Homo sapiens: one gene and its partners. The protein of the gene in region 4 purifies or fractionates together with the protein of the main gene of each other region. This does not show direct contact. Each region holds a gene or a part of one and is shown on either strand. Other genes may lie near its edges. The genes, in order: MTO1, DMXL2, PANK4, AGBL4, C5orf34, DMXL1 and ESPL1.

The links.
Region 1: the proteins of AGBL4 (region 4) and MTO1 purify together in Homo sapiens (affinity purification with mass spectrometry; one large-scale study listed by BioGRID and IntAct). This does not show direct contact.
Region 2: the proteins of AGBL4 (region 4) and DMXL2 purify together in Homo sapiens (affinity purification with mass spectrometry; one large-scale study listed by BioGRID and IntAct). This does not show direct contact.
Region 3: the proteins of AGBL4 (region 4) and PANK4 purify together in Homo sapiens (affinity purification with mass spectrometry; one large-scale study listed by BioGRID and IntAct). This does not show direct contact.
Region 5: the proteins of AGBL4 (region 4) and C5orf34 purify together in Homo sapiens (affinity purification with mass spectrometry; one large-scale study listed by BioGRID and IntAct). This does not show direct contact.
Region 6: the proteins of AGBL4 (region 4) and DMXL1 purify together in Homo sapiens (affinity purification with mass spectrometry; one large-scale study listed by BioGRID and IntAct). This does not show direct contact.
Region 7: the proteins of AGBL4 (region 4) and ESPL1 purify together in Homo sapiens (affinity purification with mass spectrometry; one large-scale study listed by BioGRID and IntAct). This does not show direct contact.

The regions. Positions count from the first base shown.
Region 1 is NC_000006.12:73,506,737-73,509,736, reverse strand, and holds the end of MTO1 (5-taurinomethyluridine-[tRNA] synthase subunit MTO1, mitochondrial), read right to left. Parts: 3' UTR 501-3,000; downstream 1-500. UniProt on the Homo sapiens protein: Component of the GTPBP3-MTO1 complex that catalyzes the 5-taurinomethyluridine (taum(5)U) modification at the 34th wobble position (U34) of mitochondrial tRNAs (mt-tRNAs), which plays a role in mt-tRNA decoding and mitochondrial translation.
Region 2 is NC_000015.10:51,479,772-51,483,271, forward strand, and holds part of DMXL2 (dmX-like protein 2), read right to left. Parts: intron 1,853-3,500; coding exon 771-1,852; intron 369-770; coding exon 177-368; intron 1-176. UniProt on the Homo sapiens protein: May serve as a scaffold protein for MADD and RAB3GA on synaptic vesicles. Plays a role in the brain as a key controller of neuronal and endocrine homeostatic processes.
Region 3 is NC_000001.11:2,513,097-2,516,596, forward strand, and holds part of PANK4 (4'-phosphopantetheine phosphatase), read right to left. Parts: exon of another isoform or gene 2,982-3,500; intron 2,622-2,981; coding exon 2,466-2,621; intron 1,371-2,465; coding exon 1,258-1,370; intron 994-1,257; coding exon 906-993; intron 1-905. UniProt on the Homo sapiens protein: Phosphatase which shows a preference for 4'-phosphopantetheine and its oxidatively damaged forms (sulfonate or S-sulfonate), providing strong indirect evidence that the phosphatase activity pre-empts damage in the coenzyme A (CoA) pathway.
Region 4 is NC_000001.11:48,585,955-48,589,454, reverse strand, and holds part of AGBL4 (cytosolic carboxypeptidase 6), read left to right. Parts: intron 1-2,288; coding exon 2,289-2,451; intron 2,452-3,500. UniProt on the Homo sapiens protein: Metallocarboxypeptidase that mediates protein deglutamylation of tubulin and non-tubulin target proteins.
Region 5 is NC_000005.10:43,498,149-43,501,648, forward strand, and holds part of C5orf34 (uncharacterized protein C5orf34), read right to left. Parts: intron 1-3,500.
Region 6 is NC_000005.10:119,069,692-119,073,886, reverse strand, and holds the start of DMXL1 (dmX-like protein 1), read right to left. Parts: upstream 2,801-4,195; 5' UTR 2,318-2,800; coding exon 2,231-2,317; intron 1-2,230.
Region 7 is NC_000012.12:53,274,799-53,278,298, reverse strand, and holds part of ESPL1 (separin), read right to left. Parts: intron 3,483-3,500; coding exon 3,289-3,482; intron 1,680-3,288; coding exon 1,440-1,679; intron 1,217-1,439; coding exon 1,072-1,216; intron 830-1,071; coding exon 691-829; intron 479-690; coding exon 339-478; intron 1-338. UniProt on the Homo sapiens protein: Caspase-like protease, which plays a central role in the chromosome segregation by cleaving the SCC1/RAD21 subunit of the cohesin complex at the onset of anaphase. During most of the cell cycle, it is inactivated by different mechanisms.

The DNA of each region.
Region 1 (3,000 bases), on a different chromosome or scaffold from region 4:
TTACTTTAAGTACTAGACAAAGTAAATCTAAGAGGTCTGTGGTACTGCACTAGAGAATTGTTACTTGATTATGGTGGGCCAAGTGGTTGAAAATTTACCTAACAATACTATAACATAGGCCATATTTCATAATTTTAATCACAAGGCAATTGTGAAAATTTTATCAAATGTTTAATAAAAGCAAGGTGAAGAAGGTGATAGCTTTAAATTTACTTGCCATTTTTGGGCACACAAAAGTAATTTGCTCTGCCACTTAGAGTTATAAGGTCAAAGTGGGAGTAAATAATCTTTGTATTAGGAATTAAAAGTTTCTATTTTAGCCAGTCATGGTTTCCCTAAAAGAGTTCATGTAGTTTTGCTTTTGTCAAACTTTACATTTAAAGCTAACTCAAAACAGATAAAAGCACAATATGCAGCCTGGATTTTCCTTTAACACAATCTCTTTTGAGACATTGTCCGAAATATGGGTTATTGCTCGTATAAAGCGAAATAGACTTAAGTCAAAAGTAAGCAGTTTCATTTATTCCAGTGAAAAAAGCGTATAGAAGATTGTGTGGTTTTCAGAGGTTAAATACCAGATGGCTAATACCAAATGAAAAACATAAATAAAACTTGGTTATATTTTCAGTACAATCATGTGATTGAGGGAATATCCTAGTTGGTGTTGGGATAAACCAAGTTACCATGTAAGCAATTTGAGTTTGACTTCTAGTGCTGTCTGGAGGCATGCAAACTGAGGAACTGGTTCTCAGCCTTCTGGTGAGGGCATCTGCAACATTTTCTGAGGCCTGGATTGTAACCATATGGGTATAACAGTGCAGCTATATTGGTGCAACAAAAGAAGAACCTCGTGGAGCATTGACCTACAGTCCCCATCTTTAGCCATTATCATACCTTCTTGATTGACTCTTTGGACTTCCCTGTTGAGCCTCTTGCAGGATTCTATATATAACTAGCAACCCAGTAAACATCTGATGAGAAATGAGGTGATTTTTATTCATTTATGGTTGGGTACAAAGAATGTTTTCTCATAGCTATCTTTATGTTGAAGTTAGGGATGCATTTCTTAGAACTCAATTTCTCATTTTGTATAACTGCTCATCAGTATTTTTCTTCAGAGCTATAATACCTCTGAATTTTCAGTTAAACTGCCCTCCTTGAGGTTGTTTCTTGTGAAACTGGAAATACAGAAAATTCCAACAGTTTTCTTAAATTACTTGAAACACCACATACACATAGCACAGTCTGGTCTTGTGTCAAAATACAGTATATTCTAGAAGTGTTTCCTTTTAAATTTAGCCAGTGTTTTTTTTTATGTATCTTAATTTACTGTTATAAATTTGGATTGCCCATGTTTTAAAAGGATGTAGACCAACTCTAAAAGAGAATTCTAAAAGCAACCAACATAATTAAAGACTAAAAATGACTTAATTACAAGCCACTGGACTAAAAAATAGTTGTTTAGCCTAGCAAATTCTAAGAAATTATTATTGTCTTCAGATATAGGAGGAATATTTTAAGTCTGCAGAGGGTGCTGTTCAAGTGAAATTCACACTCTGAATTCCCCTACAGCCTCCAAATTCTGGGATAACCTTTGAAATAGAGTGAGTGCCATAATGGCTAATTAAGCATGGCACCTCCATAAATGCTTAACCTGAAATAGGTTACAAAGGATTGGAATGGGAACTGAAGGTTAAGAGAAACAGACTTCCAGATTGTTCAAAAGGGATGGAGAATTTTTTTTTTTTTTTTTTTTTTTTGAGACAGAGTCTCGCTTTGTCGCCCAGGCTAGAGTGCAGTGGCGCGATCTCGGCTCATTGCAAGCTCCGCCTCCTGGCTTCACGCCATTCTCCTGCCTCAGCCTCCCGAGTAGCTGGGACTACAGGCGCGCACCACCACACCCGGCTAATTTTTCGTATTTTTAGTAGACACGGGGTTTCACCATGTTAGCCAGGATGGTCTCTATTTCCTGACCTCGTGATCCGCCCGCCTTGGCCTCCCAAAGTGTTGGGATTACAGGCGTGAGCCACCGCACCCTGCCGGGATGGAGAAACTTTTAATCCAGTAGAGGACCTCTGGTCCCTAGGAGGGAAAAATCCACTGAAAGTGGCAGAAAGGTGTTGTGAAGTCAGAAGACCTGAGATCTATGCTCAACAGCAACTTGAAGTTAGACTTTAATTACATCACCTCGCAAGGCTAAGTTATATCTATAAAATTGGAGCATAGGAAGAGATCAGTAAGACTTTAAGTTTTTAAAAACTTTTTAGAAAAATTCTTACTCTGAGGAATACACAGATCCTAACCTGTTGGGGTTTTCCTGTCAGAAAGTAGTGCTGTTCAAACAGATTGTGTTTTTTCAAACTTTTGACTGTGATCCACAATAAGAAACATTTTCATTTATTTTTTAGAGACTGGGTCTTGCTCTGTTGCCTAGGCTGGAGTACAGTGGTATAATCAGAGCTCACTGCAGCCTTGAACTCCTGGGCTCAAGTGATCCTCCCACTTTGGCCTTCCAAAGTGCTGGGATTACAGGTGTGAACCACCATACCTGGCCTGAAATACATTTTATATTGCAGCACAATACAAACACACACACTGTATTTCATTGCATCTAAGATGTTTTTCAGTCACAAATGCTGCCAGTTATAACTGTCAGATGCCATTAATTGTAAGACATACTCCAACTTAGAGATACTAAAATATGGAAAGATGTGCATCTTAAAATTGGTGAATATAGACCGAGCGCGGTGGCGCACGCCTGTAATCCCAGAGGTCATCCACCCACTTTGGGAAGCCAAGGTGGGTGGATCACCTGAGGTCAGGAGTTCAAGACTAGCCTGGCCAACATGGTGAAACTCTGTCTCTACTAAAAATACAAAAATTAGCCGGGTGTGGTGGCACAAGCCTGTAATCCCAGCTACTCAGGAGGCTGAGGCAAGAGAATCGCTTGAACCCGGGAGGCAGAGTTTGCAGTGACCTGATGTTGCGCCATTGCACTCC
Region 2 (3,500 bases), on a different chromosome or scaffold from region 4:
AGAAGTAAGAACACTTACTTTTAAATTACATTCATTGGACTAATAGTCTTGAACTGATCATGAGTGAGAAAGGTAGCACTTTGAAATATTTCCCCTAAGTTCGAATTAAAAGACAGGTATAACATATTTACCTTCTCAGGGTGTATAATATCAAATGATCATAAACTTTACATTACCTTCACATCTTCAATACTGGGATGAGGTGGTGTTTTCATCTGAACAATAGTATAAAGTATATCATGGATGTGATTATTTAAGTACAATACAGGATTAGCTATGACTGTTTTTGTTGACGCAATACTTGCTGAAAGCAGAGGTAGGGTGGTAGGCAGTGGTAGTGGAGACTGGAGCTGCTTTACTGTAGTTTCCTGTGGGTGATAGTGAATTATTTTTTTCAAAGTAGTTTAAAAAATTTTATCAGTTCTCTGACAGAAATACTGGTGATAAACATTGTGTAAAGGGAATATGTTCGCTCACTCATTCTACACAAATTTATTGAGCACCCAGTATGTACCAGGTACTATGCTAGATGTAGATGGTATATAGATAAATATGACACAAGAATACTCTCAAGCTGTTAAGCCTACTCCTTATTATCAAAACTTCAGTCTAAGACACATAGAGTATAAATATCTGCCTCCTATAAAGAGAGGAGCTGAACATATTTAGATTAACTAGTAAAAAGTAGTAAAAGAGCTTTATAGCTATAACTGGAAGAGCTACTGAAATTACTGAAATAACCAAGATTGAAAAAAAAGTGATATTCACACCTGTTGTGATTCTTGTAGCAAAAATTTGAGTTCCATCCTTACTGAAGCCAAACCACCACCTTGGGCCCCATGAAGGCTACAGTAGCTGAGAAATACTCTCAGGAGATCTTGGTTTTTCTGCAACCACGACTTTCGTCTTTCTGCATGCTCTCGTTTGGCCTGCAATCTTCTTCTTTCTATTTGATGGCGCTCATAGGAACCAATATCTGGTTTGTCTACCATTTCTTCCTGATCCAGCAGATCACTCTCTACTTTGGAATATGTCTTACTGGAATACTCTTTAATAACTGATTCATGATTACATATCTCATGCAAGGCAGCAATTTCCTTTTCAAGCCAGTTATAGAGTTGAAATCTGAGTTTTCCTCCATCTACTTCATAACCTGTAGCCAATGTTCTTAATTCAGTCATAAGGATCTTTAAACAAGCTCTGAATTTTAGTTGTTCAGCAATCACATCAACTTCAGTATCACCTTCAGGATCATCCTCTTCCTGAGGTGTTAATAACATGTTAGGGTCTGAGGCCTTCTGATCTGATTGTTTATCTTTTTCCCTGGCATCTGTACTTTTCATCACTAAACCAACAGCATCGTCTTCCTCTTCATCTAAGGCACTGTCGTGATCTTCACCCCAATCAAGATTAAGAGGTTCCTCATCAACTTTTACTATTGGCTGACTCCAGTCATACTGTGATGAAGTTACATTTGACCATTCAATGCCAGAACTTCCATTGCCATCACTCAGAGCTTTTGAATGTGAAGGTACATCATCCATCCTGTGAGAAATGAAGTCAGGCTGATCTTTTTTTGCAGATAAGGCAGATGTTTTGGTTACTTTTGGAATTTTGGAGAGTACCTCCAAGGCTAAAACAGGGCATCCAACTTTAAAATGAGCATTTGCAGTGGTAAAGAATAATTTTCTTTCTATGAGGTTAATTTTATCAACAAAGTTCTTCTCAGTTTTGAGACCTAAGGTTGCCAAAGTTCCTTCAGGGGAGGCAAGATTTCTTCGAATGAGCAAAGGATGAGTTCGAAGGTAGTTATAAAAACTAAATGCCACCGGGTTACAAGACTTGATGATAACTATAGAAATCAAACAGATAAAATCACAAAGCATTGTGTTAATATGTATTTACATTACAAAACAATAAAATACGTCAGCATTTCTTCAAAAAAACAACATGTAAATATTAACCTACGATAGGTTACACTATGGCATATACAATCATTACAACTGTACAGCTGAAATAGAAAGAATTTCCCAATATGCTACGGAGTGATTCCCATCACTATAGAGTGATGTCCAGGATACACTAAGAAAAAGAAGATGCAGAAAGTACATGTAGTAAGCTACCTTTTATCTATCTAAGACAGTGAAGAGGAAATACAAATACACACTCATGCATATTGGCTTATCATTTTTAAATGGAAGACAAACACAAAAAATTTTAATTGATTCCTTAAAAGGGGAGAGCAAAACAGGGAAAAAAAGAGCTAGATTTCTCTGAAAATACACTGGTTTTATATATTTTATTTTAACACCATGTCAACATTTTACATAATTTTAAAATAAAACCAAATCTAAACCACAATTCACAAAAGGCAAAATTAAACAAATCAGTCTATCAAGTTGGTAGCATAATCACACAGAGATGAACTCTAAAAAGTGAGTTAAAAACAAGTAATTTGACTGTACATCCTTAGCAGAATGTACCATAAAACAAAAAAATTCTGCAAAAAAGCTTAAATTATGTTCAGAATCATGTTATTATAAAAATATCTATATTATTATTCTGAAACTTATATGCACATAGATAGCAAATAACTATGTTCATGCCATGAGAATCCAAACATTTCATTATAAGACACAAACTTAACATCTAAGAAGAAAGAACCCTATAATCTATATGTGCATGAGAAATAGCAGGGTAAACTCCTAAATTCTAAGGAAAAAAAATTTCCTAATTCCATTCATTGCAATAGTCTAGAAATTATGACAAGATTAGTACCAATGAGGATCCTGGTGCCCAAACTATAGTTTCTAAATATTATTCCCCACTAAAAGGAAGCAGAATGCTTTGGAGGAATGGTCATTTCCAGGTCTGGGGCAGGAAATGTACAAGATGACCCTTAAACATTTTGTAGTACCAGAAAGCAAGAAAACTATCAAGAAATAATGCCAGAAGAATTCAGAAACCTGAAGAAGTTCCCATTTGTGAAAGAACAATCTGAGCATCCATAAAAATAAACCAAGAGAATGATGCCAGCAAGATGGCTGCTAGACACACCTGGCATTCATCCTCCGAAAAGAAAGGACCAAGGCAATGAATAAACAGCTAAGATTTGACTGGAGTGTCAAAGGGAGAGCACTAGAGTGCAGCAGGGGAGTGGAGATGCACCTGTGGTGACTGCAAGTCTAGGAGAGCAGTGTGGAGGTACCCGGCCTCTGCAGCCCTATCTCCCCCACCCAGACTGGATCTGCCCACAGTCAGGAAGAACTTCTCATTGCAGAGGGGAAAAGGTAAACAGAAGATCCCCATCAGCCCTCATGGCCACCACAAACATCTACAGTCCTTACAACAGAAGAATCCCATAGTACTTGCAAGCCCTGTGTCCAGTTTGGAGAGACGTCAGAAGTTCACGCAACGGCACTGACCCAGATTAGGAGCATAAGGTGTGTGCCCTCCACCTACCGCCAGTGAGCCAAGCTGCTGCAGCACAAGCACTATCT
Region 3 (3,500 bases), about 46 Mb from region 4:
ACACCTGCCAGGCGCAGCCTGTTCCATACCACGCCCCTCAGGATCGAAGACTCAGGCCCAACTGGGACCCCACCAGGCACAAGCCTATCGGTCCGGGACAGTGGCCAGCGCACAGCTGCACGGGGCTCTGAGGACGAGGCCCAGGACAACTTCAGCCCCCATGTGACTGAGCAGTGGGTGAAGGGCAGGACAAGAGTGGAGGACACGGCCCCCACAGGTACCCACAGCCCTGGCCTCAAAACCCTCGACACCCAGACTTCCGCTGTCACAAGGCTCGGCGTGTGAGGGGAGGGAGGCATGGCGCTGGCCCTTCCCAGAAGAGGTGGGAGGAGTCCATGCCTCCGCTGCTGCCCGCTGCCTCCTGGCAGAAAGGGCCAAGGAGGGCTCTGGCCGCCAGACTTGGGGAAGCAAAACGGACGCCCGGAAAGGCCCACCTTGCACGGCCCTGCACGTTGCCGGGATAGGAGGCCTCTGGTCACTGTCCAGCCTCCTAGGAGGGAGCCAGGGTGGTCCAGGGTTCCAGCCCCTCCCCATGAGGGGAAAGCAGTCCCCAACCACAATCGCCCACCCTCACAGAAGCTGGGAGGCCCTTGGCTCCTGCAGGCAGGCAGCCTGTGTCTGTCAGGAACACATCCAAACTGGGGTTCACACCCTTCTTCTCTAGTCACAGCAGTCCCCACCCCTAAGTGGCCCCAGCATCTGTGGGGGTAACACAGCTCCTCAGCAGATGCTGCCAACAGAGGCCCTGGCTATTGTGGTGCCAGGGCTGGAGTTGGGGCCGCTACCAAACCTGCATGGCCTCAGACAGGACAGGATGCCCCGAGCCAGCGGGACAGAGACAGGACACGCGGTGCCAGCGGGACGGGGACAAGAGCGAGCGGAAGGCCAGGGCACACTGCACTTACTTTGGAGTAGGGATCCGGGAAGTTGAACTCGTTCAGACAGTGCTCCCTGGTGTCCAGCAGGCTGCGCACGGTCAGGGTCCCATAGGCGCTGGGGACAGACACGGCAGAGGGCGCTGAGCAGGGCAGGCCGAACACCCGCCCGTCTGCCATCCTCGGCTGTGCCACGGACGTCCTCAGGAGCCCGGCAGTGCAAACGCTGCTTGAGGCGGGGTCCAAGGGGGCTGTGCCGCCAGGGCCCACACCCACCCCCAGCGAGCTGGGGTCCGAATGCCAACATCACGGCACTTTCTCAGAGGTGCAGGGGCCCTCTGGATGGAAGAGGTGGCCACACACCGGGGTGCTGGGCACTTACAAGGGCTGCTGCCTCAGGGTCTGAAGCTTGTTCCAGTACTTCTGCCGGAACTTCTCCGCCCTCTCGGCTGCATCCACAGAGTCTGGCTGGCTCGCCACTGCGCGCTTCACTACCTGCCAGCGACAGAAGGAGGGGGTTAGTCAAGCGCTGGCCCTGCTGCTTGCGAATCCCCACGTGACAGCAGGGGGCTCGGGGAAGGGTGGGGGTCGGCCGTGGGGGACTGTCTGGGGCAGGGTGGGGGCGGCTGTAGGAGGCCTGGTGCAGGGTGGGAGCCGGCTGTCGGGGGCTGTTTGGGGCAGGGTGGGGGCTAGCTATGGGGGGCTTCCCGGGGCAGGGTCAGGGCCTGCTGTGGGGGACTCGGGCAGGGTGGGGGCTGCCTGGGCTGTGGTCAGGGCAGTTTCTACTGGAACAGGAAAGGCTGACGGTGACAGTTCACGGTCACCCGAGGCTTCCCTTTGCCATTCGCCCCTCCCAGTTGCCCTGGGAGGCAGGAGCAGGAGTGACCTTGGTCCCTCACCCCCCAGGAAACCCGAGGCCAAGACCCACGTCCTCAGACTCGAGCCCCCATCCTGTGCCGGGGACGAGGGGCTCTGGGCACTCAGAGCTCACTCCGGGTCCTGGGCAGGGCTGGGACTCCTCCCTCAGGACAAACCCTGGCACGACCCGGCCTCTCCGAGGGCTTCGTGAAGAGTGCGTGTTGCTACCGGGGCTCCCTGGCCCCGAGCTGAGCTCCTGAGGGGCAGCGTGGCCCAGGGCCTGGCATTTGCTCCACGGGACCAGCCCAGCCTTGGAGAAGGTGGGACGCAGGAGTCCCAAGGTGGCCTCGCCGGGAGCTTGCTGGGGCTGAGTCTCACCCCACCCCCAGAGTCAGGGTCCCACAATGCCTCCCGCACCTCAGTCACACCTCAAAAGAGCAGAGACGTCTCCTAAATTGCTTTTTGAAGGAATGTGCTAGCTAGCAGAACTATCAGCTGCCCTTAGAAGCAACGTGCCTCGCAGACGCCACGTCCTCACTGACCCACCAGGTGGCCAGGAGCGGTATTTTTGCCTGAGAAACCAAAATCGCCCCCTCACTCAGACGCAGATCAAGGGGTTTCTGGACAACACTGGCCTGTCCCCCTTCGCCACCTTGGCTTTGCCCCCGGAGCCTTGGAAGGTTAACCCGGCTGCGGCCTTGGAATCGTCTAGACGGCACCCGGAGCCCTCACCCCGTCCAGGGCCTCCTCAAAGCAGGTGAGCCAGTATTTTCGGGCCAGAGCGTCATCGGTGAGGTCCACCGTGTCGGGCACGTAGGAGGGCGGGTCCAGGAGGAGCGGCAGGTCAACCAGTGGCCTCTCCAGCCGGTCCATTTCCAGCAAGTCAAACTGGAAGACAGGCAGTGGCAGGGTGGAAACGTCACCATGGTTCAGAACGACCCAAGCCACACTCAGAAGCTTCCACTCTCTCTCTAAGAAGGGAGATGTACTGCCTTCTTCCGCCACGTCTCTGGGCCACAGACGAGACCCCCACTGGGCCCCCTCAGCTGCCCGGCGGCCTGAGCCGGATACCTTGACTTACCCCCTGGTTTGACACTGGGGTTGCGTCTGCTCCCACCACACGCCTCCTGCCCCCAGCACCTCCCCGCTGCAGCCACACCTCCCCAATCACCGCTGCAGTCACCCTCCCATCACCCCTCCTCCACCATCCCTATAGTAACTCCCTCCCCCATCACCACCTCCCTGCAGTCACCCCTCCCTGTCACCCCTACAGTTTCACCTCCTCCCGTGACCCCTGCAGTCACACTGTTCCCACCTCTGGTCCTCCAGGTGGCCGTGTCTGCACACAGAGGTTTGGGGTTCTGTCCTCACTAAGCACCAGGCAGTGTTCCACTCCGTGCCGGGCAGGGAGTCCCCACGCCCCACATGCACCCTTCTTCCTCCATGGCTGCCGGGCCTCCCAGCACGTTCTGTCCATGAAGGACTATGGCAGGGCCAGGCCATTATGCACCCAGGGCACCCCGGGGCCACCTGCACCCAGCACAGGCGCGCTCACGGGCCCTGCTGGCTTTTTCTACCTTATGCCGGGAGGAAGTGAACTGAACTGAGCCGACGCACACATCAGTACTCGGCTCTCTGCACGCTCACCGCAGCAGCCGCTGCTCTGGGACCAGAGGGGCTATGAGGGGAACTGTGTAGCTGACCGCCTCTTCCCACCCTCCGGTGGCTACCCCACAGGTCACATGCTGGCCCTCTGCCCTTCTCCAC
Region 4 (3,500 bases):
AGGGGCAGAGGCCCACAAAGGTCATAGCAATTTTTGAAGTTGATGAGCTGAAAACTCACCTGCCCATTGCTTCAAGCCAGGACATTAGTGGAGATGATGAATTTCTCTGCGTGTTAAGATGCACTCTGAATCCCAGAACTTTTGAATGTCAAACCAGGAAAGGAATTGGCAGATTATTTAGTCCAGTCCCCTCTTTACACCTGAGAGTAAAGAGTGGCCCCAGAAAAGATGAGTATTCAGCATAAGGTCACCCAGCATTTAATGATAGAATCAAAGCAGGTAGCTCCCCATTTGCAGCTGTGGGGCAGAAACAGCCATACCTTTTTCTGTAAGAATCTCTATAGGATGGCCCTGTCTATTTGAGACCACTGCAATTTCAGAAAAGAATGTGGCCTCCTTAGTCCAAGTTCCCTGGAAGGCTGGGTCATAGGCCTCAGAGACCCTCCTCATGTGGGTGAAGTTTCCAGGGACTACAAAAGGGGCACAGTCTGACAGCCTTATTTCTGGGCTTGCCTGATGTTTCTGCATTGCAGCCTCCTTAAGGGTGGGAGTCAAGGTCATCTGTCCTGGTCCAATTGCTGTCTCTTCTCTTCCCTTCTCTTCTCTTCTCTTCTCTTCTCTTCTCTTCTCTTCTCTTCTCTTCTCTTCTCTTCTCTGATCCTCAATGCCCAACTCTAAAACAGGAGAGTTGGAGTTTACTACATGGATTTCAAAGGTCTTTCAGATCTGACATTCTATGATTTTCTGATTTTTCCTTTACCTTAAAATAGACACACACACACACACACACACACACACTTCTCTGTTTCTTTCACAGTCTTTCTGTGCCTTTCTTGTATTGGTGTTTACTTTATCTCTTTTCCTTCTTCCTTTATCTCCTGCCGAATAAGACATGTATTCTCTTATTAAAACCATGGTCTGTTCATTTGCTTAAATTTCCAGGGGTTAGCATAGAATGCCCTTCTAACCCCAAGTGAACTGACCCTCACAACTCTGTGAAAGAGATATTATTTTCACCTCCAAGTTACAAATGAGGAAACTGAGACTAAGACAAGTAAGTCAACTTGCCTGACATCATGTACTCAGTGGGTAGTAGAGCATGTCTTTGAACAGAGGACTTGAGAGTGACATGCTTGTTCATTTCTCTATCCACTGTGATGGGTGCTGTCAACATCTTAGTAAAGAAGCAGCCATGATCCCTATGCTCTAGTGATTCTGGACATGAATCAGCTATCCCTAAAGGAAGTAGATTCTTTGGTTGTCTGGAGTCACTTAGTTCTGGATTCAGATTTGTGCTGTATCACTTACTTGCTCCACCTCTATGAGCAATCTCATATTCCTCATCTATAGAGAGGAAACCTCAGTTTCCTCATCTATAGAGAGATAAAATGTGAACACCTACTTCAAGTGGTTATTTTGAAGCCTAAATGAGATACTGCATGGGAAACAATATCATACAATTGAAAGCACTGCCCAAATTTTAGGGTTTTATTTTTGTTTTTGTTTTGTTTTACTTTTTTTCTTTTTAAAGAATAGAGACATCCCAGCACTTTGGGAGGCTGAGGCAGGCGGATCACGAGGTCAGGAGATCGAGACCATCCTGGCTAACACAGTGAAACCCTGTCTCTGCTAAAAATACAAAAAATTAGCCAGTCGTGGTGGTGGGCACCTGTAGTCCCAGCTACTCAGGAGGCTGAGGCAGGAGAATGGCATGAACCAGGGAGACGGAGCTTGCAGTGAGCCAAGATCGCGCCACTGTACTCCAGCCTGGGTGACAGAGCGAGACTTCATCTCAAAAAATAAATAAAATAAAATAAAATAAAATAAAATAAATAAAATAATAATAATAAAAAGAATAGAGACATGGTCTCACTATGTTGCCTAGGCTGAACTCACACTCCTAGGCTCAAGCAATCCTTCCACCTCAGCCTCCCAAGTAGCTGGGACTACAGGTGCACACCACCATGCCAGGCTCCAAATGTTAGTTCTGATTATCATCAAAATGTAGTTGCTTCTTTTTCCTCTGTCTGCTTTTCCCTGCTCCCTCTCTCTCCATTCATTTTTCCACAAATATTCGTTGAGTGGCAGTTACTGCACCTCAAGAACTCTGCTTGCTTCTGTCATTAATTATGTTTATTTAATCAGTCCTTATAATAATCATGTGATGAGGGGCTAATATCCCACTCTTCAGACAGTGAAGCTGAGACCCAGAGGTGTTGTAAAATTTGCCCACAATCCAATTTGCAGCAGGTGCCGTGATTCTCTCCTCCCTACTCTGTCTTTCACAGTCCAGCACATCCTTTAACCGGGACGCTGTGAAAGCAGGAACTGGCCGTCGCTTCCTCGGTGGACTCCTGGACCACACTTCCTATTGCTACACCCTAGAGGTCTCCTTCTACAGCTACATCATCAGTGGCACCACGGCTGCTGTGCCCTACACTGAAGAAGCCTGTATCCTTAGTCCCCACCCAGCCTTGGGCCAGCCCTCATCCAGCCGAGAGTATCCAAGTCTGACAGGTCAGGAATTAGGCCCCCAGCTCAGGTAAGGGCTGAGACTCTCAGGTGAGGATGGAGGTGCTTCTTCTTCTGGTGGCGTCTTTGGATTGTCCAGTTTGCCTCAGCCCTTAGTATGATACTCCTACCCCAATTGCCATGCTCCAAATCTTTCCCAGGCCAGCCGGACCCATGGCCTGCCCATATCTTACTCTGCTTCCATCTCTCTCCCCTCTCTTCTCTCATGATGCAGTGAGTCTCCTGCCATCTAAGCTATGCAAGTCCACAGGCTGGATGACCATCCCCAGGGTTGCTGAGGAAGAGCTTGATGATCTTGACTCCTTCTAACCCTGAACATACAAAAACATATGTTCTCTTTTCATCTTTTGTCTAACCTATCCTCTCCCACTTTCTCTTCCCTCTACTCACTATTTCCCCTTCTACTTACTTTTCTCACCCTTGTTCCCTCTCCTTCTATGCCCTCCTCCTCCCTCCTCACCTGTCCTGTGCTTCTCTTTCCTTACTTCTTTTTCCCCCTCCTCCCCTCCTTTCTGTCCTCTCTCTCATCCCATCCTCCTTTTCTTTCTCTCCTCTTTGCCTGTCTTCTGTCTTCCTTGTCTTTCCCCTCTCATCCTCTGTGCATCTTTCTCTCTGCCTTTGCATTTCCTTTGACAAATTCCTTTTCCTCTTAGTTTCTTCATAAAATTTCTCTGAAAACTCCAAAGCCTTCCATGATGAAATTAGAAGTTATTTTCTAGTTTGCCTAATTTTTTAAGGATTAGGTAGTAACTCTAGTTTCCCGAGTGTTGATTTTAATATCAAGGTCACTGCATCAGAGCTGTAACAGATCGTGGCAGATTCTGCTTTCCTTGATCCTTTGTTTTCGGGTTGATCTATGTCTCCTTTCCTAACACTTAGTTTTCTCAGAGAAGTGGAGGGAGGAGGAAGGAACTTTAGATGAAATGAACTCTGTATTTCTGCAAATTCCCCCTCCCTGGAGGTAGAAG
Region 5 (3,500 bases), on a different chromosome or scaffold from region 4:
ATGAAGGAAGGGGCTGTGTCTGTTTTGCTCATGTCTGTATCATTATCATTTATTAGCACAGTGCTTAGCACATGGGAAGCACTCAAAATACCATATTTTAATTATTTATGTCTTTCTCTACTGGATATTGAGTTCCCTCTGGGTTCTTATTTCCAAGACCCTATTTCATCAACTCTAAAATGCTCATTTTTCACAATTTAACCTCTCTGAAATCTGGATCCATCTTACAATTAAGAGTGTCTTATAATCTATTAGGCAGGTGGGGTTGAGATATAGTTGAATTTTAATAATCTCAAATCCTTAATTGACATCTCATGGTAGGCGCAAAAGAAAAAAAAGCCATCATCAAAAAAATTTAGATTTGATAAAAATTTTGGTTTCACACAGTACCGGGCACCACCATTCATTGATTAATAATTTGGCATCCCTTTCAACTCCTTCCTCATCCTCAGCGTCCAGTCAGCAATCAATTCTGTCTCCTTAATATTCCTTCTCATTTTTCCTACCACTGCCTGGCCTTCACTTGAACTACTATACATGTCTTCTGACTGGTTCTACAGCTTCAAGTTTTACCTCTTCCCCACCCAGTTCATCTTCCTCTGAAATAATCTAACAAAAATCTGATGTCACTTCCCTACTTGAAATCATTCAATGGTTCCCCAAATGCAGTGAGGTTACTCATGCTCCAGTTGTGAGCTGGCCATCTTAGTGATCTGGCTTCTTCTCTGGACATTTCCCCCAGCATCCCATCTATGTTTTGGCCTACCAAACTACAACATTTTCACTTCCTTCAACACTCCACACTCGCCCCAGGCTCTTGTGTCCAGTTAGGTGCCATTTATAAACTGTGCTAAGAAGCAGCAATAATAATGTGTTGAATAAGATAGGGCTTAAATCTAGTGTAGCTGATAAAGAACATACATCATTAAGAAAATGTCACCCAATATTCAGTGCTTTGAAGAAAAAACATGAGGATGTCATGATAGGGAGTGTCTTGGGTAGCTTCTTTAATTTGAATAGTCAGGAAAAGCGTCTGTGAGGAGATGACATTTAGATAGAAATCTGAGTGACAAGAAGCCAGCCATGCAAACAATTGAGAAAGTAAATTGTTCCCTTAGCTATATGCTCCTCCTACCTCCATCTGTCTTTTGTACAACTCCTCCTTTGGAATTATAGATCCTAGCTTAGCCAAGTTTTCCTTCAGGAGTTGTTTCTGGAGCCTCAAACACTGGGTCTGGTGCCCTTTCTTATGTGGTCCCAAAGCACCAAGTTCTTATCTCTATGGAAGTACTTACACTGTGAGTACTTGTCAATCTTTCCTATTTCAATTTTTAATTATACAATAAATAATACATTAAGTTTTTGTTAAAAAAAGTTCAAAAAGTATGAAAATTGAGTCCTCTCAGACTTCTCCTCCCTCACAAAATCCCACACTCTTTCCCAAACATAGCTACTTCAGTGTGTATTTGCCCAGGATCCTTACTTGTGCTTGTGCATGTGTATTACAGAAAGTACTATATAGGTATGGGTTTATTTTTTGTTCTTTACACAAAAGATATCATTGTACGTGTTCTAACGCAAGTTTCTTTATTCGCTCAACAACCCGATCTTTGAGATCTTCCAGAATCTATTACTGTATGCATCGACATCTACCTCATTCTTTTCAACTACTGTACACCATTCCCATAATTTGATAATTACAACTTATTTCACCATTTCCCTATTAATGAACATTTATTTAGGTTGCTTCTGATTTTTTGCTGCTACAAATAATGCCACAAAACACACCCTTGGCCGTGCTTCTTTGAACACGTGCAAATATTTCTCTAGGCTAGATACTGAGAAGCAGAATTTCTCATCAATTTCATTTGATGTTATCAAATTGTCCTTTAAGAAAGCCAAACCAATTAACACTTCAACCAACACTATGAAAGCACCACTTTTCCCACACCCTTCCCAGCAGATGTCATCAGTCTTTTTAGTTATTGGCAATTTGGTAAGGGAAAAATGTTATGTCATTGATATTTTAATTTGCATTTCCCTGATGCAAGTAGTAAAGTTGAATATGTTTTCAAATATTATGACTTTTTAATTTACATTATCTTTTCTATGGCTAAATCCATTTTTACCCTTTGCCCATTTTTCTATTAGGGTATTTTGGTTTTTTGGTCTATTACTGATTTATAGTGTGGAATATCTTCTGGGCTTTTGCTTATCTTTTTAACAGAAATTCTAAAATTTTCTTTTAATTAAAAAAATTTTTTTGAGACAGAGTCTTGCTCTGTCTCCTAGACTGGTGTGCAGTGGTGTGATCTTGGCTCACTGCAACCTCCACCTCCCAGGTTCAAGCGATTCTCATGCCTCAGTCTCCCAAGTAGCTGGGATTACACACAAGCACCACCATGCCTGGCTAATTTTTGTATTTTCAGTAGAGACGAGGTTTTGCCATGTTGGCTGGGCTTGTCTCGAACTCCTGGCCTCATGTGATCCACCAGCCTTGGCCTCCCAAAGTGCTGTGATTACAGGCATAAGCCACTGTGCCCAGCCTAAATATTTATAATTTAACGTAAGTTTGAAGATTTCAAGCTTGTCAAACTTTTCTTTTATGCCTTCTGGTTTTCTGTATTCTACTTAACAAGGCCTCCTTTACCCAGAGATTTTAAACATTGTTCTTCTATATTTTCTTCTAACACTTATAAAGTTTGGTTTCTTACATTTAGCTCTTTAATTCATCTGAAATTTATTTTGGAGTCTGGGTTAAAGTAAGGAGCAAACAACTTTATCCCCAAAAGAGGGTCAATTGTTTCTAAACCTTTGCACTAAAACAGACAGAGAAAGGTGAAGGTGTTGCACACAAAGGTTGGAGAGTGAAGCCCAAGGCAGTCCACCACAAATGCGTTTTAACCCAAAAGCTCATGCTTCTACTCCATGATATATTTGCTTTAGTATAAAAATTATCACCCCCTCCCGCAACAGCTTTGAGTAAAATTGAAGCTCCAGGAAGACACACTCCTTTTATCTTGCAATTTTGCACACCCTCTGATATACAGCAGTCAGCAATATGACTATGCATACCTACTCTATTTGCTTGCTCACTTGATTGTCTGATGTACTATATAAACACACATACACACATATATACGTATACATGTTACTGGGCATGCTTGTATCTCATTTGCTTGTTTGCCTGTCTAACTGAACACAAGACTGTGAACTCTTGAGGGCAGGAACTCTTCTTCATCTTCATCCTTGTCAGTGCTTACCAGAATGCCTGCCAAAGAGTTACTGTTCAATTAATATGTATTTACTAAATATTTTCCTAGAAATAGGCCCCAGTTGGGAATCTGTTCCAATATATACTGAAGTATTTATGAAGAAAACAATATTTGGTTGGGATTTACTTAAAAATAAACAGGGAGTGGAGGGAGAAGCAGGAAGTATAAATGAACAAGATGGGTGATGGGTACATAGGGGTCCCTTATATTTGTCTACTTTTGTAT
Region 6 (4,195 bases), on a different chromosome or scaffold from region 4:
GCCTTTTAACATGAGAGAAGAAAAAAGGGCGATTTCAAGAGAGAAAAATTTAAGGTGTATATAAGTGTCCAGGATAATGAGCGTAAGCAACTTAAAGAGTCAAGGATGAACAGGCTGCAAAGGAAAACCATGACTGTTAAATCCTTAAAATTCCATCAAAACTAAAGAGAGCTGAACTCTCTTTATACTTAAAAATTTATTTTTAGTTTATTTACTGAATGCTTCCAGAGACCTGGAAGAAATCTGCAGTAGGCTTGGTGGGAGATTAAATCCTACTCAATGGAAATGAACTTTAAAATTCAGCAGAACTGAGCAACAAGCTACATGATGGTACAGGATGACCATCTATCTAATCCTCCTCGGCACATTAACTGATCTCTCCTTAAAAACAATACACAGACATTCACCAAGGTTTTATAGAGGAATGCATCCAGGTATATAAATAGGCCATCATACTGCATATGCTTTGAAGTTCACACCACTGCTTACATAGATTGTGAATGCCTTCTTAGAAAAAATTCTTAGGGCTGGGCATGGTGGCTCACGCCTCTAATCCTAGCATTTTGGGAGGCTGAAGTGGGAGGATCACTTGAGCCCAGGAAGTCAAGACCAGCCTGGGCAACATAAGGAGACCCCTCTCTACAAAAAATAGAAAACTTAGCCAGCCGTGGTGATTAGAATCTGTAGTCCTAGCTCCTCAGGAGCCTAAGGTGGAAGGACGGCTTGTGCCGGGGAGGTCGAGGCTGCAGTGAGCTGTGATCCCGCCACTGCACTCCAGCCTAGGTGACAGAGGGAGACCTCATTTCAAAAGTTTTTAAAAAGCAAAAGTTCTTAGAATTTACACTGGAGAAAGCACTCATATAAATTTAGGAAATGACAGAGAATGCAACAATATTATCCTATAATTTCCCACTAGGAAAACCTTCTAAGGATGATGTTTACTTTCCTCTCAAGCAGCAAGAGCAGAGAGCAATGCCCAGGTGTAAGGAAACTATAGTTGCTCACTGGGACCCTCAGAGCTCACTCTTTTCCCAAGTATTCAGGCTGGGCAAACATTTAGAATTGGAATCCCGATAATTAAGATGTGTATGAGTCAATCTAAAGGGGAGGTACAGTCTCTATTTGAAAACAAAATGCTTCTTGGCACAATTCTAAAAGTACAATTCAGGCATTAAATGCCTCCACCATTTTAAATGCTGAGTATTATTTATTCTGACCAACAAAGACCACAGAAAAATTAAAAGCAGAGAAAAAGATTAGAAATTTAACACTCCTAAACCTGGGGCATTGGTTACGTTGTTTACTTTGTGTCACTTATACAAAATTAAGTTTTACTTTTATTTTTTTTAAAGAAAAAAGCCTACAGCACTTAGTATTCCCAGGCAGTGACAAGTTTTACTTTTAATCACAACTAAAGAGGTATCTACACAAATTGTAGCAAAAATCATTAGCATTATAAATTTATGTAGATAAAAGTATCATGTGCAATTACTGACTTATATTTTGAAATTGTTATTAAAAAAAAACCTATAGTTAAGGTAGAAAAATGCCACTATACTGACAAGTAGCCCGAAATTTGGTGCCCTCTTCTTGTCAATATGTGACCAATGAAAAGCAAGTTAAGCAACCTTAACCTGGGATTACCAGGTTATTGTAAAATATCCAAGAAATATTTTTAAAAATGAAAAGGCTTTTTTTTCTTTCCGAAGTTATTTCTCAGGGAATTAGAAAAGAAAATAAATGAAAAACACTGTTCTCAAGGCTAGTTGTTGATGGCAAACAATTGGTAATTGTTTTGAGACACCCACTTTTTAACTACAAAGATACTTGACCTTAACTTAGAATACAAAATGAAACCAATCTCCACTATTCCTAAATTTGACAATTTGAACCTATAGAATGGTATAAAAAAGCCCCCAACTCGTTACTCAACAAAGATTTTTGAACAAACGACTTTGGCAAAGCACCCTGGCCCAAGGCAGACAGACCAAAAACTTTAAAAATCCTACAAAATATTCTAACTTGAGTTCAGGCTCCATACAGTACCTCACTGACCGACATGGTTTTGCTTCCTTAGTTCTCAAGGGCCAGGTCTGCTGGGTTCTGGGTGGTAAGGACCCCCCTGGGGAGACAAGACCTCGCGCCTCTGCCCGTCGTTCTGGGCCAAGCTCGGCCCAGAATGACGGGCAAAGGCCGGGCCACGGGCGACGCGAGGGCCTCCCTCACTCACCGTGAAGCGCTGGTCGCCAATGCTGCCCACGGAGAAGCAGTGGTCGCCAGGGTTCACAGCCCCGGTCAGCACCTGGTGCAGGTTCATGTCGGCGCCCTAGTCCTGCAACGGACACCGCATCCAGCTCATGCCACGGGTCAGCGGCTGCTTCCCTCCCTCCTTCCCTCAGGGGCGGCGGCCGCTCTTCGGTGGCGACGGCAGAAGCAGCGACAGGCGCCTGGAGCCGGAGCCGCTCAGCTGGGGCCCGCGACTCATCCCGAGCCCCGGAGGGCGAGGCCCGGAGGGGGCGGGTCGGCGAGAGGGCGGAGCGCCGCGCTCCTTCGCGCACCTGTCACTCCCCGCGCTAGCCCAGGTGAAGCTCAGGGTCCCCTCACCGGCCACGACCCGGGGCCGACTCACCGGCCAGGAAGGCCGCGCTGTCCACACACTTCCTCTGGACCTCGGGCAGCCGCTCCTGACCCAGCCCGAGTGGCGCAAGCAGTACGCGCTCGCACTCCCCGCCTGACCTGTCCCTTCCCGGCTCCGGTGCCCGCCACCCCCACAGTCCTCCGCCACTCACTACGCGCCTCTGGATCCCTGCGGCCGAAATATCGCGAGACTTCGCTCGGGGCAGCTGCTACTGTGGTAAAGAATTCACTTTTTTACCACAGCGTGCGTATCAGCAAGTGAACATAAAAACGCCTCTTCTAGTCAGAAACTGGCCAATCCCGACCCCCGGTCCACCTAGGGCTCCGCCCACCACCGAGAATAAGCCAATCTCTTTGAGGCTTCTACAGGAGAACGCCGTGCGTTTGAGCTTGAACCTGATAAGCCTGGCAGAAGCCTGATGAACCCAGAATGAGTGAGATGTGGTAAGTTGTGCTTTAGGTTAGGGCGTCATCTAACTGTTGGGCCAGAAAATTTAAAGGGGAGAAGTGCATCCTAAAGGGAGTTGCAGTTTCCTCGGTTCTGGTAGGACTACAAGTCCCAATATGCACCGCTCCCCCGGGCGACCTGAGTGTCTCTTGAGTAAATGTGACCCTTGAAACGTCTACGTTAGCAGCTTAATGGTTTCTCCAGCCTTGCGCGTGTTTCCAAGTCCCTAAACGGGATGGTTTTTGAAAGGCTCGAACACTTGACAAGTAGGAAAGTGGTATTTTCTTAGCCTAAGTTATCTTAACACGTGATTTGAAATAGTGCTGGTAATAACAACACACCAGCCCTGCATTGAGCGTTTGTTTTGGAAAAGAACCTAGGAATTCCAGAATGATCAGAGTCACAGCTACAAACTGAGATTCAACTCTCATTGTATTTTGACACAAGTTTTGTATTATAATTGACAAACATCTGTTTATATGTCTCCCCCTGTATACCGTAAGCCTCTTTGGAATACAGAGGAACAGGACACAAGTCTGTCCTTAATGTCTAGCACCGCACCAGTCCCACCCATTCAGGGTGTTCTGTAAATGTTGCATGAATGTGTATAGAAACTCTCCAAATAGGCCAGGCACGGTGACTCACGCCTATTATTCCAGAACTTTGGGAGGCCGAGGAGGGTGAATCACGAGGTCAGGAGTTCGAGACCAGCCTGGCCAACATAGTGAAACCCCCTTCTCTACTAAAAATACAAAAATTAGCCGGGCGTGGTGGCTCCCACCTGTAATCCCAGCTACTCGGGAGGTTGAGGCAGGAGAATCACTTGAACCCGGGAGGCAGAGGTTGTAGTGAGCCAAGACCCCCGTTGCACTCCAGCCTGGGTGACAGAGTGAGATCCCGTCTCAAAACAAACAACCCTCAAAACTCTCCAATAGGCCAGGCACGATGGCTCACGCCTGTAATCCCAGCACTTTGGTAAGTCGAGGTGGGGGCGGGGGGATCACCTGAGGTTGGGAGTTCGAGACCAGCCTGGCTAACATTGTGAAACCCAGTTTCTACTAAAAATTAAAAAATTAGCCTGGCATGGTGGCACGCGCCTGTAATCCCAGC
Region 7 (3,500 bases), on a different chromosome or scaffold from region 4:
TTCGCCGTGTTGCCCAGACTAAAGCTAACATTTGAGCATACCATTTACACAATACCTCTTCCATGCACTGCTGCACTGAATAATAACGCCACGAGGCAGTAGCATGGCCCCTATTTTAGAGATAAGGAAACTTGGGCTTAGGTTAAGCAACTTGCCCAAGGCCATACACTAATGAATGAGGGAGCTTGGATTTAAAATAAGACTGGTGATACAGCCCTGCGCTTCCATCACTGGCTTTCATGGCTTCTCAGGAGGATCACAGGCCAAAGAAGGCGAGGGAGCTGTTTCTGGTCTAGTCCTTGTTTATATGGGTCCCCCTCAATGCCCCACCCCATTACCTTTGCCACCAGCTGGTAGAGGGCTGCTAGGATCTGCAGTGAGGCTGCTGTCTGCTGGAGACACCGTACAGCTGGGGCCTGCCCCTTTGTAAGCAGCTCCTTCCACAGGGCCAGGGCTTGGTCCAGGCATTTGGACTGAGCTGTTAAGCCAGAAGAAAATGACTGCTGTCTCAGCATGGGCCATCTGGAGAGAACTTCCCTTCCTCCATAACATCCTCTGCCCTTTACGCCAACCTCCCACTGCTTCCACAACCTCCTACCCTACAAGGTCAGGGTTTCCCTCACCAGGGGTCCCTGTTCCACTCTTAGGAAGCCATGGAGATGCCCATGCCACACTCCATTTACCCCTCACCAGCATCTGCAGCCAGGTTGAAGGCAATGTTACTGTATAGGAAACGATCTTCCTGGAGTTTATCTTCATAGTTCAGGTCATTGACTTCAAATTCCTCCAAGTTACCAGGGGCCTGGGCTCTCCGATCCCGCTCGATACCCTGGATGGGAAGATCGGGGTATAAAACAGGGCACAGTGGTGTGGGCCTATCGTCCTGGCTACTCGGCAGGCTGAGGTGGGAGGATTGTTGGAGCCCAGGAGTTCAAGACCAGCCTGGGCAACAGAGAGACCCCATCTCTAAAAATAACGAACAAAAAAAAGGGCTGATACCAACTTGTTGGGGGCCCAGGGACAGTAATTCCTACACCCAGTTCTGGTGAGCCCCACAGCAGCCACACTCACTTCCTGCATTTTGGCTTCCAGAGTACAGATGTAAAGCCACAGCAAGGCCTGTGCTTTATCGTCCAGAAGCTGATCTCTGGCCTGGGCCTCAGGCCTCACAGAGTCCAGAAGCTGCAGGGCTTCCCGGATAGCATCCAGAGCAGAGCTGCAGGGAGAAGATGTGCTTAAGCTGGGCCTACTATGAGTATCTGCCATAGCGCCCTGGGAAGGGCTAGCTGCAGAACAGCTGGCCTCGCCCTTTGCATGTGCTCCCATGGCCACAAGATGAAGGGAGAGCTCAGGGCTGTGGAGAGGGAAACTGGTTCTCAAGAGGGTGAGAGGACCTAGGGCAAGGAGCAAGAGTGGCCTCTGCAGCTACTACTCCTTACCAGTTGGTCTGCTGCGTAAAGTCGTGGTAGCAGAGCACCTGAGCCAGTTCTACCAGGTGGGTGGCTCGTGCCCAGGCCCCGGCTGGTGTCTCCTCGGGGCTCAGCTCCAGGAGGTCACAGATGATGTTGAAGCGTTCCTGTCCAGTGTCGGCCCGCACCGCCTTGTAGGCCTGCAGCTCCTCCCTCAGCAGGAGGGCCAGGGTCTCCGGGTCCCAGCCACTGAGGCTGTCTCGCAGAGTCCTGAGAGAGGGCATGCTCAGCACCAGGGTGGAACCCAGGAGGCATAAAGCCTCTGCTACCTGCTCCCATGCTGAGGAGCCCCAGCCTTGGCTTGCTCAGTAGGTTTCCAGTCATGGCTTTAAAAATTTAAATCAGATTGCATTGCTCCTCTGTTTAACAAACGGCAGTGGGCTCCCACTAGGAATCATTTCCAAAGCCCTGACCATGGCCTATAAGGCCCTGTGTGATCTGGCCGCTTCCCACTTTGACCACCTTCATTCCATATGGTTCCCCATCCTATACCGCTATTCTACTACCCCCAGCATGCCGGCTTTCTCAAGCATGGTCCCAAGTTTGTTCCCACTTTGCAACCTTTGTATTTACTACTCTCTCTGCAAGGAATTCTCTTCCCTGAGTTTTTTGTTTGTTTTTTTTTAGACAGTCTCACTCTGTTGCCCAGGCTGGAGTGCAATAGCGTGATCACGGTTCACTACAGCCTTGATCTTCCAGGCTCATGTGATCCTCCCACTTCAGCCTCCTAACCAAGTGTAAATAGACTATAGGTTCATGCCACCACATTCGGCTAATATTTTTTAAGTAGAGTCAAGGTCTCGCTTTGTTGCCCAGGCTCCCTGAGATCTTTACAAAGTAGATTCCTTCACATCCTCAGGTCTCATCTATCACTTCTTCAAAAAGGGTTTTCCTAAATAACCCACCTCAAGTTGCTCCCTCTTTTAGCAAATCAGTTTAATTGTCTTCATAGAGCATACGTGAAGGCTGGGCGCACTGGCTCATGCCTGTAATCCTAGCACTTTGGGAGGCCAAGGTGGAAGGATCACTTGAGCTCAGGAGTTCAAGACCAGCCTAGGCAACATAGTGAGACCTTGTCTCTATTAAAAAAAAAAAAAAAAAAAGGAACAGACACAAAATGCAAAATGTACTTTTTAAAAATATCTCCCCAAGTAGAATATAAGCTCCATGAAAGCAAGACCACTGTCACCACTATACCCCCCAAGTAGCACAGTGGCTAGCATACAGTGGGCACTCAATGAATAACTAATGAATGAAGGAATTAGTATTTTTCAGACATAAAGATGAAAGGACATGACCATGAGTACCAAAAGCCACCCTATCCATGGGAGAAACATGGTTGACCCCCTCCCCAACTCACTTTTTTTTTGAGATGGAGTCTCCCTCTGTCACCCAGGCTGGAGTGCAGTGGCACGATCTCGGCTCACTGCAACCTCCGCCTCCCGGGTTCACGCCATTCTCCTGCCTCAGCCTCCCGAGTAGCTGGGACTACAGGCACCCGCCACCACGCCCAGCTAATTTTTGTATTTTTAGTAGAGATGGGGTTTCACCGTATTAGCCAGGATGGTCTCGATCTCCTGACCTCATGATCTGCCCGCCTCGGCCTCCCAAAGTGCTGGGATTACATGTGTGCTGGGATTACATGTGTGAGCCACTGTGCACGGCCAATGCCCAGCTAATTTTTGTATTTGTAGTAGAGACGGGGTTTCACCATGTTGGCCATGGTCTCAAACTCCTGACCTCAAGTGATCCACCCGCCTCGGCTTCCCAAAGTGCTGGGATTACAAGCATGAGCCACTGCGTCTGGCCCTCAACTCACTTTAGCTGTAGCTCCTTGTCTCCAGCCCTGGCCGCATCCATCTTGACCCGAACCCAGAAAGTGACTGGCTCAGCCATGTGTTCAGGGCTACAGGGTTGCAGGGCTGCCAGCCACAAAATCACCATCTTGCAGCCCTGGGCCTGTTTACCCAGTTTCTTCAAACTCTCTACTTGTAGCCGGAAGCACCTGTGCAACTGACCAGAGAAAGGGAA